Linked DNA regions of Homo sapiens: region 1 is linked to region 2. Evidence: fine-mapped expression QTL. Tissue or cell type: subcutaneous fat. Region 2 holds a variant in brackets; the other region holds the start of a gene. All regions are shown on one strand. Distances are between the middles of the regions. Region 1 holds the start of SLC17A9 (solute carrier family 17 member 9). Region 2 overlaps FLJ16779 (a long non-coding RNA gene).

What was found. PIP is the estimated chance that this variant, and not a neighbour inherited with it, causes the effect. A credible set is the group of variants that fine-mapping cannot tell apart.
Region 1: it holds the start of SLC17A9, and the variant in region 2 is the best candidate, but not a certain one, in a credible set for the expression of SLC17A9 in subcutaneous fat (GTEx, PIP 0.50).

What each region holds. Positions count from the first base shown.
Region 1 is chr20:62,951,477-62,954,279 of GRCh38, reverse strand. It overlaps SLC17A9 (solute carrier family 17 member 9), which reads right to left and starts at 1,571. Exons shown (of 13, transcript NM_022082.4): 1 at 1,391-1,571. The coding sequence starts at 1,449. RefSeq lists silencers at 1,351-1,450, 1,461-1,780 and an enhancer at 1,332-2,161.
Region 2 is chr20:63,257,327-63,260,317 of GRCh38, reverse strand. FLJ16779 (a long non-coding RNA gene) reads right to left here. Exons shown (of 1, transcript NR_024389.1): 1 at 1-2,991. Among named protein-coding and RNA genes, the nearest start is that of NKAIN4, 4.4 kb to the right of the region's middle. RefSeq lists enhancers at 1-309, 1,545-2,162. The variant C/A (reference allele first, on the strand shown) is at 1,597.

The DNA of each region.
Region 1 (2,803 bases), 310 kb after region 2:
CTAGGAAAAGGCGTGCGTGTGGCAGCCTTGACCCACAGGCCCCTCCAGAATCCTTGGCGCTACCCAATAAGGGCCTGCAAAGGAAGTTGAAGAGCTGTGGCAAGGGCTCCTTTTTAAACATCGAGCCTGGGAGGGACGTAGTGAAGGCTGCGGCAAGGGCTCCTTTTTAAACATCGAGCCTGGGAGGGACGTAGTGAAGGCTGCGGCAAGGGCTCCTTTTTAAACATCGAGCCTGGGAGGGACGTAGTGAAGGCGGAGCCACTCAAACCAGCCGCCAGTGAGGAGGCCCTGAATCCCTGGGGAGCTGGCCCTGCCCGGCAGGCCTGGATGAACGTGGGTGGGGGAAGAGGAAGAGAGCAAGGGGCAGGGCCCGCTGAGGGCAGCCCTCCCCTCTAATTGGCGCCTGACAGGGCTGTGATCTGGGCTGCCAGCTTTTCCCATGCAGCCAGCGCTCCCTTCATCTGGGTGCCAACATCCGATGGTGGCACTGCCCCTTTGGGCCTTCCTACAACTCTTCCCAGCACTTCTAGGGTCCTCAGCCCTCATACAGCTGGGAACTGGTGGGGCCAGAAGGTGCCATTACCTTGCCATGGTCAGGGTAGGTACCCTGGGGACTCAGTGCAGGCAGGAGACTGCTCTGGAACCCACAGGGCCTGAGTCTAGGCCCAGGGTCCAGCCACTTAAGGCCTCAGCCCAAGACCCAGAGCCAAGGGGTTCAGCAGTGTGGGGGCTGCTCTCAGGAGCTCCCTGGCAGAGGCCCTCCCCAGCTGACCAATGGCCCGCGGTCACCATCTCGCCCGGTTTCTGAGGCGTCACCTGCCCAGGGAGCCTCCTACAGGCAGCAGTGCTGGTGGCCAGGCGACCTGCCCAGGCCCTGCTTCTCCCCACCACCAAATGCTCCGAGAGCTGAAGCCAGCGGGGAGCTCGTCCTCAGCACACAGCTGGCACGTGGTGGCAGGACCCCCCCCAACCCCGTCCAGCTGCAGGCTCCAGCCCGTGCCCCCTACCTGGCCTCCTGACTGTCCTGGCGCCTGCTTGTCAGGGTCATGCATACACAGGGTGGTTCCACCTGGCGAGGGGTATGCCTCCTGACTGTCCAGGACAATGCCCCTGGCCTGGGGAACATAGCCCTGCCTGGAAGAGCCCCAGGAACACTGGCTGGGATAGGGCACTTGCCAGGTCCGGTCCTGGAATCTCATGGCAGGGAGGAAGGACAGGGCACTCACTTCCTTCCACCTCCCACAAGGAACACAGGGGGCCCCACAGCCAGAGGAGCCCGCCCAGCTCAGCCCTCCCCACCTAGCATCGTCCCACGTGGCAGTATCTCAGCTCCCTCCCCACGGCCCCATCTCCACCGCTCCCACCCCCCCTCCCCTCACCCCCGCCACACCTGGACCACTGGGTGTCCCCGGCCATGTCCCTGCGGGCCTCGTCTGGGGGTGGCTGCATCGGGCTTGGGGTGCTCAGACGGCGTGGGCACAGCTGTGTCCCGGGGCTGCCTCCCAGCCCAGGCTGACCCACCCGGGCAGCACCGCCCAAGTCCACGTGTCAGTCCCAGCGCGCTTCCGTCTGGTTCTCTCAGGACTTGTCGCCCCCAGACGGCCACCAGGGCGGGCAGGCGGGGCAGGGCGGGGCATACCACTCGGGTGCCCGCCCCACCCTGCTGACGTCGGTCCCTGCTGCCCCATAGGAGCGGGGCCAACGGTCGCCCTGGCTGGGTCGCCCTGACTGTCCGACGCGCCCTGGCTCAGCCCCAGCAGAGGTTAGTGTGGGGGCAGAGGGGGATTCCCAGCAGCAGGCCGGTCAGACTGGGGCTTCAGAGAAGGGCCCTGGTGGTAAGCCTGGTCCAAGAGGTGCCAGCCCATCCCTTGGACACGACACGGAGCCATGGGGCCGTCTGTCCTCTGTCTATAAAATGGGGAATGATGGCAGTCCCTGCCTTACCGATCAAATAAAATCAGGGATAAAGTCTTAACCAAGTGCAAAGAGAGTAAAAGTACAGGGTCACTGATTTTTAAAATGGATCTTTCGGGGCAGGGATGGGTCCACTCCTGAGCCCTTGGACCAAGCCTGGGAGAGCTGGACAAATCCAGCGCTGGCCCATGTCTTCTCAGCAGATGCCTGTGAAGGTTGTCATTGGCCCCTGGGTTCCTGGACAAAAGGTGTCCTGAGGACCCATCACAGGCCAGGTTCTGGGCTCGGGGGCAGGGGTGACGGGGTGGGGCCCCCACTCTGTGTGCTCCTGCTGCCATGCCAAGGATGAAGCCAGCAGGGGAAGGCCTCAACCATGCAGCCTTTCCCCAGGAGGCGGCAGGGCCTGCTCCTCAGGCGTTGCCCCCACCTCCACTAGGGCCCACCTCAGTCCATCCTCCACGCAGCAGCCACCACCCAGGGGCCGAGGGAGACACGTCTAAGGCAGGGCCTTGCACTTAGAACAGACCCACATTTACCCCCTCCCTCCCCCTAGCCCTCAGGTCTCCAACAGCCCAACCCACTGCACTGCAGGGCCTGCTCCCAGGGCCCTCTGAACAGAAAGACACGGGCACCCTGAAAAGCAAGGTCATACTTTCATCCATCCTGACGTAGGGTAGGTGAAAAGATGGTGGCAGAGAGAGGTTTATTGCCCCAAACAGCCCTAGCCCATAGCCAGGAAGTTTGGAAACTGTTGCTAAACGTATCGCTGTCAACAGCACCCTCTTTGAGGTGATTCGCTTCCATTCACTCTGTGATGGTGATTTCCTACCGAGATCTGTGATCATGCTGCAGCAGACATTTGCCATCTGGTTACCCAAAGTCCCCTTCC
Region 2 (2,991 bases):
GGACACACGGGCTCGGGGTCTCAGCTTCCTGCCGTCCGTCAGTAGAGCTGGGAGAGACACAGGCTGGGTCTCACCTGGCCAGAGGTGTGGAGGATGCAGAGACCTCTGACCGGACTGGCCACGCTCGCCGTCACACCCTGACGCCTGCGGCCACCCGTGCAACTGGAAGCTGAGGAGGCAGGTGCTGAGCCAGGTGGGTGTCAGACCGGGGACTCAGAATCCTGTGAGGCCTTCATTCAGTTCCCACCTGCTCCGCGTGGGAGACTTGGCTGAGGCAGAGGAGAAAGTCAGCAGACCCGCAGGAGGGCGTGTGCGAGGTGCACAGGGGGCTACTCTCTGGGGCATGAGACACCACCTGGGACTTCCCAGGCTCACAGCAGCCCCTGGGGAGAGAGGCCCCACATGTGCACACAAGAGCCATGGGGATCTTCTCCTTAAACAAGCTACGTGACTCTCCTGGGACAGGCCCACCCGCCCAGAGCTCCCACTGGGAAAGGACCCCTGACAGGAAGGACAGGAAAGCCCTGAGGCTGGTTCTGTGGTCGCCAGCAACAGGAGCCTGGAGGGAAGTCAGGAAAGGCGCAGGCTGGGGAGCAGGCTCGGTAAGACGGCCTGGAGGATGGGGGCTCCCCTCTGGGAGCTGCGGCCATGATCCTAGCTGCCCCTCTGCCCCCTCAGCCGAGGGCTTATAGTACCAGGGAGAGTCTGACGGCCACACTCAGGCGGAGGCCATGTCTCTACGGCCAGCCCGAGGACGTGGTTGATGCGTCCCCTGAGGTTGCACACACAGCCCGTGTGGCTGCACAGAAGCATCCGAGTGAGGGAGAGGCGGCACTGCCAATGGAAACCAGGGTGACTCAGTGACAGACGGCCCAGGAAGCTGAAGTGCCTCTGCCTCCGAGAATAAGAAGACAGGGTGGGAAACGGTATTTCTGGCGAAGAACAATTCCAAAATGGTGGTGGGGGGCAGGGTGTGTGCCGTCAGGGCTGGAAGTGGGGGGCTGCACTGCTCTGCGGGGAGCTGGCATCTGGGTGGGTCCTGAGTGTGGGAACGGAGTTCAAGGGGGTGGGGGATTGCGGGGAACAGGACCACGCGTACCGTGAGGGGCCAGGGAACAAGAATCTCACCCAGGAAGCCTGGGCTGAAGCCAGCTGGGAAGAAGCTGCGGCAACTCCCAGGCAGCTCCCAAGAAACCTCTGGGAAAACGCCCCACCCGAGGCAAGCATCCTGGGCTGCCCCTGAAGTCCAGCTCAGCCTGATTCCCACACTGGGAGTGCACACACGTGTTGCATTGTTGGGCAGGACGTTCCTTTCGGGAGGGAGAAGCTGGGACTGGAGAGACCCGGGCCAGGCTCTGAGCCAGAGAGGGGCCTCTCTGTGTGTCTGCAGTAAACTGGAAACCAACCAGCACCCTTTTTTTTCAAAGGAAGAACAGAGTCGACAACATTGCCTGTGGGCCTGGATGAAGGGGTCTGGCTGTGCTCTCTGTGGAGCCATGGGGATTGGCCTCTCCTTTTCCAGGAGTGTTTGTTGCAGTTGAAAGTTCTCCCGGTTTCATCTGAAACGGGGACAGGGGTGTTGTGACAACAGAGGGG[C/A]CTTTGCAGCCCCGCACAGGCTCTGCGGACAGCTCTGCCGGGAACCCAGGCCTGGGTTCCTCTTCCTTTCCTTTTCCTGTTGTCTCTGCCACAAGGAAGGTCTGCCCTGCGGGCGGGCTGGGGCTGCTGCAGGTGTGGGAGAGCAGCGACTGAATGGTGGCCCCCAAATCTAGGCCTGGCACAGTGGCTCACACCTGCAAACCCAGCATGTTGGGAGGCCAAGGCAGGAGAATTGCTTGAAGCCAGGAGTTTGGGGCAAGGTTCTTTGCAGATGTGATTAGGGATCTTGACATGAGAGCATGCTGGATTACATAGGTGGGCCCTAAATGGCATCACAAGCATCATAGCAAGTGACACACAGGAGAGGAGGAGGTCACGCAAAGGTGGAGGCAAAGACCAGAGCGATAACGCCCACAGGCTAAGGACGCTGGGAGCCACAGGAGCTGGGAGGGGCAGGAAGGACCCTCCCCAGAGCTTCGAAGGCAGTGCAACCCTGCCCATACCTGGATGTTAGATGTCTAGCCTCCACAACTGTGACGTAATAAACTTCCGTGGCTTCAAGCCGCTAGTTTATGGGAATTTGTTATGGCAGCCGCTAAAAATGAATACACTGGGTTTACTAAGAAAGAAAAAAGGAGAAGATGCACAAGGTCCTGGCCTGAACAAGCTGTCACTCTCCTGAGTTTCCCTGCCCTGGAGGCCTTTCCCAGCTTGCCAGTCCTCCCAGGAATGCATGGGCCCCACTCGGCCTGCGTTTGTGCTGACTGGGGTGGCTGTCCTTCCATTGCTGTCCTTCTCTGTCTTTCACTGTCCTCCTCTGTCCATCACTGTCCTCCACTGTCCATCACTGTCCTCCACTGTCCATCGCTGTCCTCCGCTGTCCATCACTGTCCTCCGCTGTCCATCACTGTCCATTACTGTCCATCACTGTCCTCCGCTGTCCATCACTGTCCTCCACTGTCCATCGCTGTCCTCCACTGTCCTCCACTGTCATCCGCTGTCCTCCACTGTCATCCGCTGTCCATCGCTGTCCTCCGCTGTCCATCGCTGTCCTCCGTTCTCCATCACTGTCCTCCACTGTCCATCACTGTCCTCCGCTGTCCATCACTGTCCTCCACTCTCCATCACTGTCCTCCTCTGTCCATCACTGTCCTCCGCTGTCCATCACTGTCCTCCGTTCTCCATCACTGTCCTCCGCTGTCCATCACTGTCCTCCGCTGTCCATCACTGTCCTCCGCTGTCCATCACTGTCCTCCGCTCGCCATCACTGTCCTCCGCTGTCCATCACTGTCCTCCGCTCTCCATCACTGTCCTCCGCTCGCCATCACTGTCCTCCGCTGTCCATCACTGTCCTCCACTGTCCATCACTGTCCTCCACTGTCCTCCATTGTCCAT